Linked DNA regions of Homo sapiens. The protein of the gene in region 1 purifies or fractionates together with the protein of each later gene. This does not show direct contact. Each region holds a gene or a part of one and is shown in the gene's direction. Other genes may lie near its edges. The genes, in order: ZMYND11 and PPIG.

Region 1 (7,240 bases):
TTTTTGGTGCAATAAATTGAGGAACCTAATTAGCTTGCAGGCTAGACTAAGAGTTGGAGTTATTACTGAGTAGATCCATGGTGCTCAGAAATGGAGATGTTAGTATGCAGCTGCGCTGTGCAAAGTGAGTGACACAGATTTTTAAAATTACCTTTTAAACGAAGAATAATGTTGTATTGAAATTCACCATTCATTATTGCTAATTTAAGATGTTCCCTCAAAGGACTTAGGCCATTGATATTGTTTGTAAAATAAGCGATTATCCCTTATGTCTATTATTTGTTTATCTAAAAATTAAGTTTTAAAATACCAAGAAAAGAAAAAATATATAATCCTGTAAGGATATTATATCAGGTACAACATAATATTTTAAAGTTCTCACCTTGTTACATTAGATGCTGTTTTTTTTATGCAAATGTCAAAGATTTCTGTCAGATATGTTGGAAAAAGAGCACTTTTAGTAAACTCTTTGCATACTATCTAAGTGTTTCATATATGTCTTTTACATGAATATAGACATAAGAATGATCAGATTTTGTACCTTTTTTTATTCTTTTTTTTTCAATAGAGCATTAAGAAGAAGAATACAAACAAACAGGAGATGGGCACATACCTCAGATTCATTGTCTCCCGCATGAAGGAGAGGGTGAGTCCTGCTCAGGGAATCTTTCAAAATATCCCAAAACACATTTTACTATGGTTCATTCTTTCAAAGTTGAATGATCGAGAAGTAACAAATATGTACATAGCAATATGAAGTGTGGAGAGCACCCCGTCATGTCATATTTCTTTTTTGCAGTAAACAGTTCTATAACAGGCAGTTAGATTTTCTTGTTTTGTCTGTTTTGGACATAGACATTTTGACATAAGCTACATGAGATTAGAAACATTTACATTTTTGAATTTCATTCATCAGAATGAACATTTTCATTGATGATGACTCTTTAAAATGAAAGGCAATTTTTCAAAATAACTATTCTATCACAACTTTAAGGAATGTCATATTAAACTATATAGTAGTATATGTACATTTTTTCTGTTAAGTTTTAAAGTACTTCCTCTGAGATTTTGCTTTAAAGGTAGAAAATATTGGCCGGGCGCCGTGGCTCCCGCCTGTAATCCCAGCACTTTGGGAGGCCAAGGCAGGAGGATTGCTTGAGCCCAGGAGTTCAAGACCAGCCTGGGCAAGATGGCAAGACCCTGTCTCTACAAAAATAAAAAATAAAAAGGTAGAAAATATTTTGAGCTTTAGGAATTGATGTCTTACCTGCCTTCCTTTAACCACATTTAAATTGATGTACTAACACCCTCTTAGGCTATAGATCTTAATAAAAAGGGGAAGGACAATAAACACCCGATGTACAGGAGGCTGGTGCACTCAGCTGTGGACGTTCCCACCATTCAAGAGGTAAAGTCGGTTTCTTTTATTTCCACTTCAAGTACATTTTCTTAACTAACAAGTTAAAGAATAATGTAGCAGTTAAGCAGATTTTGGTTGCTCTTCTTTCCTTGAAAGTGTACTTTTTTCCACTTCCTAAAACAAAAGACAGGCATAACTACCAAATGAAGCATTATTAATTTGTAAATTTCATGTGCTTACTCTAATGCAAATTAGGTGTCATCTTTAAAAGGCCTGGTTTTAAAGATGAGCAGCTTGTAGCTTCTTGATCCTTGTTGATTTAAGAAAATGCCTTACAGCCTGGGCAATTTAGCATTTCAGATGTAAAGAATGTTTTCCAGGTTTAGCAGTGGTACCTGAGAGTTCCTCTCAGAAAAAAAAGTAAAGCATAGAACTGATCTGCCGTCTTGGGAAACAATAAAATGAACAAAAAAAATTATGATTAGAAAAGTTAATTATTCTTAAAGGTCTTAATTTTACCAACTATAGCTGAGGATTGTTAGTTTGTTCACGTCCAGTAACAAATTGCAACAACATCCAGTAGAACACGTAGACATATTTGCAGTCAGGGTTACTGAATTACTGATTTTGCACCTCATGTGTCATGTTGGAAATTTAAAATCTTAACGCTTGGTCATTATAGCCTATAGGGAGACCACAGGAATAATTTTAAATCATCTTACAAGTTTCTTTTCTTTTTTTTTTTGAGACGGAGTCTCACTCTGTCGCCCAGGCTGGAGTGCAGTGGTGTGATCTTGGCTCACTGCAAGCTCTGCCTCCCGGGTTCACGCCATTCTCCTGCCTCAGCCTCCCGAGTAGCTGGGACTACAGGCGCCCGACACCACGCCCACCTAATTTTTTGTATTTTTAGTAGAGACGGGGTTTCACCGTTTTAGCCAGGATGGTCTCGATCTCCTGACCTCGTGATCTGCCCGCCTCGGCCTCCCAAAGTGCTGGGATTACAGGCGTGAGCCACCGCGCCCGGCCACAAGTTTCTTTAGTACCCAAGAAAGACTGTGGCTGTATTATTTCAATATAAGATAAGGGTAAATGAAGGTTTTTCCCTTAAAGTAACTGGTAAATCCTGGAACAAAACCAAGTAGTTTTAATTTTACCTCCTACCCCCAGCCATAGCCCCTTCTAAACTGTAAGACCTCTACAGAATATGTAAGAACCCAGACGCCCCTTCTTCCCCACTGCCTTTACTCATGCAGGTTCCTTCCTGTTGAAATCCTCTAAGATTTGTCACAGACAGGGACACCTGAGATGTTATTTTAAAATTATTTATAAACCAATTCCTAGCCCCAATTCAGAACTATAAATATATCTTAGTAGTTATGGTAAACTGTCACAGAGGCTAACAGTTCTGTTTTCAATCTCGATCCTCCTGTGTTGTAAAGAATGACAGGTGTGTGCTTAGGGTCTCACCGCCCACACTGGCCCAAGCATTCGTGCACTACCAAGCTTAGCAGCAGCTTTCTACATTATTGTCAAATGAGATGTTCAAGCCATTAAAGTTCACTCTGATAAATTAATGTAGTGTCTTTGTGGCTGCGGGATATCTGACCTGCCATGCTTCATTATACTATATTATTAAAACCGCAGGTGGCGTTGTTGGCTTCTTTTACACACATTCTCTGTCAATACTGTGGGATGGCAGTAGTCATCCTGATGTCATCCTAGAAAAGACTGCTTGTCCTGTGAACTTAGTCCAGACAAGTATTTTTACTGGTAACTCTTTTCGTCATTCTGTTTTTTGCCCTCTGCAGAAAGTGAATGAAGGGAAATACCGAAGTTATGAAGAGTTCAAAGCTGATGCCCAATTGCTTCTCCACAATACCGTGATTTTCTATGGAGGTTGAATATTTTTGTTTTTTTTGTATGCATTTTTAAACACACCATTTACATTCCATGTTGAACACTATCTTTTATAAAACATTACTTTCAAAGAATTAATACCTTAATGATCTACAAGTTTAGAGTATAAGGTTAGGAATATCTGGTGATATAGATTATAGAATGGACTGGCCAAAAACAAAATCATAGTATACTAAATGATGAAAACACAATTACTCTTTACAGTTTTATATGTATTTGTTTTAGCTGAGAGGTTTTTAATAAGCACTATGATTAATTCTGATCATTTCCCCACTAGTACCACATCATCCAAAGGTAAGGTCATTCTCTATACCCTGAGAATTAGTGGTTGTATTGGATGGAAAACAAAAGCTGCCTGTGTAATTTTATTTTGCTATCGTTATTTTAAATGGACATTTTGGTTTGAAATGGTAGATGTCTACTTTTGCAAACTGAAAGAAAAGGATAGTAACTTTGAGTCTTGTATTTGCAGACTATTGCTTATAGGTAATATCTATTTTTAATTACAGCAGACAGTGAGCAAGCTGACATTGCGAGGATGCTATATAAAGACACATGTCATGAGGTACTATTCATTGCCCAATAGTTATACTCTTTCTATAACTGAAATTAATTTATTTCAGGATTCCACTCTTATCTACATTTTAGTTGTGCCATTTCCTTTAAATGTCTTTTATTGCCGGGCGTGGGGGCTCACGCCTGTAATCCCAGCACTTTGGGAGGCCAAGTTGGGCGGATCACGAGATCAAGAGATCGAGACCATCCTGGCCAACATGGTGAAACCCTGTCTCTACTAAAAATACAAAAATTAGCTGGGTGTGGTGGTGTACGCCTGTAGTCCCAGCTACTCGGGAGGCTGAGGCAGGAGAATCGCTTGAACGTGGAAGGTGGAGGTTGCAGTGAGCCAAGATTGCGCCACTGCACCCCAGCCTGGTGACAAAATGAGATTCTGTCTCAAAACAAAACAAAAAAAGGTCTTTTATTTTCATGTTTGACATACATGAGGCAAAGGTAAGGACTGCTGTGATTGGCAGCAGATATTGTTACCTTCCTGAGGAATATTCAGTCTGAAGTGCTAACCAGTGAGGTCCGGGCAGGGCCCAGTCAGACCAGCCTCAGCTTCTGTTCCAACTGTGGCCTGAGACCAGCGACATGGTTCTAAGAGGACAGTGACAGGGTCTTCCAGTACCATTTATTGAAAACTTTAAAATTTAGGCTTAAAAGATTAAGAAACAAAATTCAACACTATTTATATACGTGAATGTTAATTTACATGGATACATTTTATATAGTTTAATGTGTATGTATATTTTATGTAGGCTAAAGTAGTTTCTTTTCTTTTTCAGCTGGATGAACTGCAGCTTTGCAAGAATTGCTTTTACTTGTCAAATGCTCGTCCTGACAACTGGTTCTGTTATCCTTGTGTATGTGAAATTTTTACCTCAAGTGTGTAACATACAGCTCTAAGGAAGTTTATTTCCAGTTTGGTTAAAGATTATAATTTTCTTCCTAAATTTTTAAAATATCATAGTATATATGGGTTTAATGAGTATAAACAACTGAAAAAAAGTAACAGGGCTTGTTATCCATTTCTGATTTTAAAATGAGATACTGAATAAAAATAAATATTGGGTCCTTTTTCTTTTTGAGACAGGGTCTCACTCTGTCGCCCAGGCTTGAGTGCAGTGGTGTGATCTCAGCTCACCGTAGCCTTGACCTCCTCCAGGCTCAAGTGATTCTCCCACCTCAGCCTCCAGAGTAGCTGGGACCACAGGCACACGCCACCACACCTGGCTAATTTTTGTATTTTTTGTAGAGATGGGGTTTTACCATGTTGCTCAGGCTGGTCTCAAACTCCTGAGTTCAAGCAGTCCTCCCGCCTCGGCCTTCCAAAGTGCTGGGATTACAGGCATGAGCCACCACACCCAGCGTCTGGGTCCCTTAATAAAGTGAATTTTTGTTTCTCCTTTCATCCTTTCACAAGAGACCTAAGGCTTTGCCTTTGTCTGTAGCTGTATAATTTCCCCAAAATAATACAGCTTCAAACCGTGCACTGACAAAGGGAATTCTGAGCATTCTTGGCCGGCAGCCTTGGCTGCCTGAGAGAAGCCAGCCCTGTGAAGACAGTACTGTGCCAGCCTAAAATTTCCCCATTTCTAACAAATTCCCAGGGGTGCTGGAGCTGCTGGCTCCCCAGCTGCACTTGGCCAAGCGGGTGCTCTTGTTTGCCACCGTCATACATGTGGATGGCCTTGCTCCAGTCCCGACCTCTTCTGAGGAATAAGGTTCATGTTGGCACTCTGATGCAAATATAAAATCAGTCAATCCCAGAAAAAAAATCTCGTATGTGTTTAGGAGTTATGAAAGAAATATTTTAGAAATAATGGATTATATGTGACTAGTTTAATATTAATGGTACACTTGCATTTAATACTTTAAAAGTAATATAACAAGGTAAAACATTTAATTTCCAGATACCTAATCATGAGCTGGTTTGGGCTAAAATGAAAGGTTTTGGGTTTTGGCCAGCCAAAGTCATGCAGAAAGAAGACAATCAAGTCGACGTTCGCTTCTTTGGCCACCACCACCAGAGGTAATTTGTGATCCCATGTTCAGCGGTCACAGCTGTGCTTATGAAGTCCTTAAGAAAGTTTGATGATTTCTCCATCAGAGATGCATGAAGTTTATTTTAAATTGGAAAAAAAAAACACATTATGCATCCAAGAATACGTTCCAAGATAAATTGTTTCCAGATATTTTTCAGATATTGTGTACTAAACAGGAATTTTTAATAACTGACACTGTTGAACTTCAGAAGCACATTACGGTTAAGACTGAATTTATAGTACAGTGGGCAGAAGGGCCTCAGAATGTGTCCATTCCATAATATGGTAATGGAATTACCATTACCATATTCACAGTTACTCTAGTTGCTCCAGCCATCTTCAAGGCTCAGTTAAAGACATATAGACTAAAATCGTCAATCTTGTGATCTTACAATGTGTGTAAATACCTGAAGCGTGCGTGGAAATAAGCCATAATAGGAATAAAGAATTCACATGCAATTTATTTGGTTCATTTAACACAGATATTGAGATAAGGTGAAAAAGTGACAGAAACCAGCTACATGATCTAAAAGTCATACTTTGTAAGGATTTAAATGAACAGTCCATGAGGTGTCTCCTGTCATGCCAGGAGGTTATTAGTGCATAGAGAAGCTACACAATGAGGGACCTTACTCCTCCCTGTGGTAAATTTTTACTTAGTCTTCATTAATTTAATTTAAACAGAAGTGTAGTTATAAGAAACCTATAAATACTGTAAATTTCCCAGAAGGTAGTTCTGTTCTTTCATAGGTAGATACACACTTACCTGACACTGTCATGTCAAGAAACATTAAATAATGATCCAATAAAATAACTCAATACAAAATGAATGTTTTAATTACATTAAGTGGTAATTTTTAACATATGCTTAATACATCATACTCGGATGGTTTCAGTTTCTTATCAGAATAGGCAAGGAAATAATGTATTTTTGGTAGGTTAGGGTAAGTCTTTATGTGAGATTGTGTTCTTGCTTCACTGTCTTCTACCCTAATCTTGATACATTAGTCAGTTTCTCTGAGCCTTAGCAAAATAAAGGCCTCATAAGAGTTTTTGTAAGGTTTAAAGAAATGTTGCTACAGAGAGACCTGAGCATAGTACCTAGCACATAGTGAGTACTCAATAAATGTCAGCTTTTATAATACAACAGATATTCAAGGAATAACGGGGGAAAGTTTGCTTCAATGTTTTTCACATTAAATAAAACACAGTTAACTTAGAAAAAACAAGAATTCAGTTATTTTTATAGCCATACTAATAGGTAAGAATAATCTGATAATTAGAACTTTTTATCTATATATTTTTCTTTTTCATCAACTTGCAAGTAGCTTTATACTGTCTTCAACCATGAGTGATA
Region 2 (5,796 bases), on another chromosome or scaffold:
TTATACATAAAGTTATTGTCATTTTAGTTATTGCTGAATACCTTAAGAAAAGTAGAATATCATTTTAGCTAATAATATCTACAGTTCTTTTCCTAATAACATTTCCCCAATTCTTTTTCTTATTTTTTAGGAGTGAGTTGAATGAAATAAAAGAAAATCAGAGAAGTCCAGTTAGAGTAAAAGAGAGAAAAATAACAGATCACAGGAATGTATCTGAGAGTCCAAACAGAAAAAATGAAAAGGAGAAGAAAGTTAAAGACCATAAATCTAACAGCAAAGAGAGAGACATCAGAAGAAATTCAGAAAAAGATGACAAGTATAAAAACAAAGTGAAGAAAAGGGCCAAATCTAAAAGTAGGAGTAAGAGCAAAGAGAAATCAAAGAGTAAAGAAAGAGATTCAAAACATAATAGAAATGAAGAAAAGAGGATGAGGTCAAGGAGTAAAGGAAGGGATCATGAAAATGTTAAAGAAAAAGAAAAGCAGTCTGATTCTAAAGGAAAAGATCAGGAAAGGAGTAGAAGTAAAGAGAAGTCTAAACAGTTAGAATCAAAGAGTAATGAGCATGATCACAGTAAAAGTAAGGAAAAGGATAGACGCGCACAATCCAGGAGTAGAGAATGTGATATAACTAAAGGTAAACACAGTTATAATAGCAGAACAAGAGAACGAAGCAGAAGTAGGGACAGAAGCAGAAGAGTGCGATCAAGAACCCATGACAGAGATCGCAGCAGAAGCAAGGAGTACCATAGATACAGAGAACAGGAATACAGGAGAAGAGGACGGTCACGAAGCCGAGAGAGAAGAACACCACCAGGAAGATCAAGAAGTAAAGATAGGAGGAGAAGGAGGAGAGACTCACGGAGCTCAGAGAGAGAAGAAAGTCAAAGCAGAAACAAAGACAAATACAGAAACCAAGAGAGTAAGAGCTCACACAGAAAAGAAAATTCTGAGAGTGAGAAAAGAATGTACTCTAAAAGTCGTGATCATAATAGCTCAAATAACAGCAGGGAAAAAAAGGCTGATAGAGATCAAAGTCCCTTCTCAAAAATAAAACAAAGCAGTCAGGACAATGAATTAAAGTCCTCCATGTTGAAAAATAAGGAGGATGAGAAGATCAGATCCTCAGTGGAAAAAGAAAACCAAAAATCAAAAGGTCAAGAAAATGACCATGTACATGAAAAAAATAAAAAATTTGATCATGAATCAAGCCCTGGAACAGATGAAGACAAAAGCGGATGAGTGAGTTATATAAACTTACTTCCATTCTGTTTCGGATTTTAAGTTTGAGAGACTTGCTAATGAATCTCCTTTATGTTGTTTTCCTTTTCATTGTTTTTGGATTGTTTTATGTTTGTCCTTTTTTTTCTTAATGTGGATTTCATTGAGTTGATTTTTTGATAATCTGCAATCTGGATAATTTGTACTGCTAAAGTTTTAATAAACTCGACATGAGAAAAACACTTTGGTGTAGTACTGTGTGCTGTGTTTAACTATTTTATGTATGCATTACTGTGTTGCAACAATTAGCCAATAGCATCCTAATTTGTTTAGTCAGCCATTTGGAATGGTTGCAATGCATTGTTGCAAAAGCTTGTGTTTCTCATGATTAAAGTAACTTTAGAAGCCACTAGAAGACATCTTGTATAGATTTTCTGATTGCGTTATAAATAGAGGTTTGCAGCGGTTTCTTTTAATTACACAGAAGCAGGGTCCTAATAACCTGAGATCTTAAATCATCACTTTTGATTTTATAGTAATTTGTGCTTTAAAATAGATGTATTTATATTGCACTTCATACTCTATTCTTTATAGTTCGAGCCATAGCTTGTTTCCTATTAATGCTTTTCCTGTCTAGTTGTGTTTTACTTAACTGCCTATAAAAATCGTAAGAGTAATTTTTTTCAGTTGATGTACTGATTGAGCTTGAGTTGCTGTTATACAGCATTTGACAGGAACTATACCTTGGAAAATCAGATTGTGATTCTCAGTTCTGTGTTGCTTTTGGTTTGAAGAGTTTTGGGAACGTTTTAATTATTAATTACCCTTCTCTAAACTTTAAAAAAAAAAAAGCTTTTCTCATTAAAACATACCATTTGTGCAGGTCCTTAAGCTATACAGATTCTAAAAATTGTTAGTATTGAGACATTAACTTCTAAGATTTCTCTTTTTTGGCCTCCAACCTATATAGAATTGAGTGTTAACTCTGCATGGATTTTGTTTGTTTTAATTGAACTGACTTCTCTAACTCTCATAGCTGTGAGTTCCAAATGGCAAGAAAATGCATCTTTTCTATATATGTATCACGATAGGCTATAGCATGTTTATGACTCTGGTTTCTTTCTCTTCAGGTGGTTTTATACCATTACTGTTAATGTTATTTTAACTTGGCATGTATAACATTGCCATATAGAGTAGAGTAGAAAGTTGCAAATTTTGATAGTTTACAGAGTTAAACACTAAACATATCCAAAGTCCATTTAGAGTTTTGGGTGTTGTATTTTGCCATTTTTGTGATGTGTGGCCTTTTATTCTGTAATCTCTTCTAAATAAAACATTGAACATCCAGCAAACATAAAACCTGCCTCATTTGAAAAGGAATTTCAAAATTCCAATTAATAGGATTCTCTAGAGAGTTTTGTACTTTAATATTTGTCAGTGTAGTGTCAACTCTGTTACCAAGGTAGCTTCTTGGTAAATCCAGTAGCTACTCAATGCTATTTGTACTGAATAAAGCAATTATTAACATGATACTTCCCACTATTGATTAATGCAATATTGATATATTTGGCGTTGTGGTAGCTGTTGCAGAATGAATAGTGTAATGACCATAAGATTGCTTGGAAAATTGTAATACAGATATCCACAATGAATTCTTTCCAAAATTTTTTTTTCCGATGATAAAAGTAGTAGATGTTTATTATAAAATCCAAGGTGATTGATTCCTTAGAGACTGACCACAAACCCACATTAGGGATAATTGAGTCTGAGTGCCCAAGCTATATAACGTTATGTAGTTTAAGCAAGTTATTGTTTGTCTTAATTTCAGTTAACTGCATTTTAAAATTGTTGTTATAAACTATTTGAGCTTTAAGAAAGGTGCTATTTAAGAAAGGATTTCTAATAACAGTTAAATATTTTTTTTAAGTCCATGCTAAGTAAAAATTCTTACATGTTGTCTGATCCCAGAGCTTTATCTACTAAAAATTATACATAAGGATTTCCAAATCTTAGAGTTTCAAAAAGTAACCATAGGGAAAAAAATTGTAGTAATTTCTATAGGCAATATTCTGTTTGGGTTATCAAAAGAGCAACTCCATGCTCCGCATTATTTATAGTCCTTATTTTAAAGTTTTATTAGCTCTCTTTACAGAACAGATGTGAAGGAGTTGAGAGGACAATCAACTAGATTTTATTTTTAGAATATAAAGAACATTTTTAAAATGATTAAACAGCATTAACTGTACCTCAGGATCTGCGCATGCATCTGAATAGCACACGGCTCAAATGGTCCTTTCCTTTTGTTACATTTAGTAGTTGTGCCATCTTTAGTTTTTGCTTTGAACATTGTTTTCCTAAAAGTCAACTATTACTTTCCCATCAAGTTGGTTTTATAGTTATGTCTAAATTTATGGTTCATGTCAAAGTATTTTTGACTTAATATCCTTTTAAAAATATTTAAACTGATTTATTGCTCAATTGGTGATAGCTGAGAAAATTTTTTCAATATGTAGAATTTTCATGGTTATTTTGTATGAATTATTTTTCTGGGTAAGCCATCTGCCACAGAAATTGACACTATGGTGAGATTAATGTTAATGAAATGAGCAGTAGAGAAGCTACTGGATTGCTTTAAAACATTCTTTGATTAAATTACTACATAGTTGGTAAGTTCATAGTTTTAAGTTACTTAATTGAAGCCCTCAGAAGTTGCAAAGAATTTATCTGATAAATCTGCCTTTGCACAAATGTGATACTGATGCATGGACGGCTTTGCGGAATGACCTTTGATATTTGTGCCTAGTGGAAGGTATGGAGCTAAACAATTAAAGAACTCTTCATTATGGATAGGCACATATTGGATCTCTGGTATTTTGGGTAGTGGTATTAACTTGACAATTCTAATTTATTTTAGTTAGTATATGTAGCAAGTTAGTATGTTTGTTAGTAGTTTATTGTACTTCATTCCAGTTGGTAATATAGTTTTCATCACACTAAACTTTTTATACTAAATTTCTGTAGAAGCTTGTTGGGTTTGCCTTCACCAGAAGGTACTTTAAATACCTACCATAGCTGATTTGTTATAAAGAAACAAAATGGGTGTTCTTCTGTTTCCTTTTGATTATGTTTACTGTAATTATTTCATTTTGGATTTATACATTTACAATTGAATAAGGATTATAGGTTGATAAGCTGTTTATTGTGAAAAGATGTGTTTTGTTACAAATACTTGTTTTAAAAATTAATAAGCCCCCAGGAAGTACAGCATTGACTGGCACAACTGCCCATAGTGAGCTTCCCAACTAACTGCCTTCAGTGGATTCGGGCAAGTGCAAAGTCTTTGGCCTATTGTGTGACAAAGAGGTATATATTAAAGGAAAAGAAAAATGACATGAATAAGAAAATTCCGTCAACAAGGTTGGAGTAGGGAGTTGTTGAGGGGTTTAGTTTGTTTTAAAAGGTATGTGAGGGAGTGGTGGGGTGGATTTGTGTTTCTGACTTTTTTTCTTTAAGCAAATTCCATATGTTACCAAAAGCACATGCTGTATATTTTCTTCCCCTTTTGTGTGTATATAGTATTTTGAAAGATAAATGAATTGGGTATTTGTATGTGGGATGTACAAAATTGTGGCCGCTCTCTTTGTGGAAGGAAAAAACATAAATGAAGTTAATGCACTTCTTTTCCTAGCCCAAAAGTCACTGTGATTATATTTTTTTAATGAAGTTTAGAAAAAAAGCTGTTGTCTTCTCAATTGTAAAATTAGTTTCAAAATGCTGCTTCTCTTATCATTAGTCTAGTAATTGTTGAACTTTTCTGCAAACTGCATTTTACAAAATTGAAACTTGGAAGCTGTATTAACTTTTATAGTTAAACATTGTATTAAATAAACTATACTATAATAAACAGTTTGGTTTTGTATTTTTTAAATTGTATTATCCAGCCTTTTAAAAATTAAAAGCTAAATAATGAAAATAAACCAATTAAAACATACTTTTACTCTCAGATATACAGGTATTTACATTATGAAAAAACTGAACAAAGTTTTAACAATACTGAGCTTTAAGAATTTAGCCAGCAGGGAAAATTTCCAGGTTTGAGAATGTTCTAATGTAAATATTTAATCATAATACTTCAGATTGTAGTGTGTCTTTTGCCCAGCAAACTTTCAAGGTTAAGCTCGGAATTTGTATTACTGTCTACTAGATCACTACCATTTGCTTCTTAAGTCCTCCGCATTTTTTTCAGCATTAGGATCACTGTAATAGATCCTGTGCCTATAACAGAGTGGTGAAGTCATGTAAACATAAATGTTAATTGAATTCTGTAAAACATTACCTAGTTTGGGGGCTGTTTTTTCTTACATTAGACATGTAGGGAAAATGCACTTAGTTGAGAGTGCGTCATTGAAAATATATGCCTAGTTATACTGAATATTGACAATGAAAGGTATATACCTAGGTAAAAACCTTCTGAACATTCAGTAGTTTGTATGTGTTAACACGTGAATATTATTAAACTCCCAAAATCTGGAGTGTTCTTAAAAGCTTTATCCAAGAAAATGTATAAAATGCAAGT

The links.
Region 2: the proteins of ZMYND11 (region 1) and PPIG purify together in Homo sapiens (affinity purification with mass spectrometry, with the first as the bait; 2 studies listed by BioGRID). This does not show direct contact.

What each region holds. Positions count from the first base shown.
Region 1 is NC_000010.11:236,270-243,509, forward strand, and holds part of ZMYND11 (zinc finger MYND domain-containing protein 11), read left to right. Parts: intron 1-568; coding exon 569-646; intron 647-1,315; coding exon 1,316-1,408; intron 1,409-3,168; coding exon 3,169-3,256; intron 3,257-3,786; coding exon 3,787-3,842; intron 3,843-4,623; coding exon 4,624-4,701; intron 4,702-5,751; coding exon 5,752-5,870; intron 5,871-6,324; exon of another isoform or gene 6,325-7,240. UniProt on the Homo sapiens protein: Chromatin reader that specifically recognizes and binds histone H3.3 trimethylated at 'Lys-36' (H3.3K36me3) and regulates RNA polymerase II elongation. Does not bind other histone H3 subtypes (H3.1 or H3.2).
Region 2 is NC_000002.12:169,636,283-169,642,078, forward strand, and holds the end of PPIG (peptidyl-prolyl cis-trans isomerase G), read left to right. Parts: intron 1-130; coding exon 131-1,241; 3' UTR 1,242-5,124; downstream 5,125-5,796. UniProt on the Homo sapiens protein: PPIase that catalyzes the cis-trans isomerization of proline imidic peptide bonds in oligopeptides and may therefore assist protein folding. May be implicated in the folding, transport, and assembly of proteins.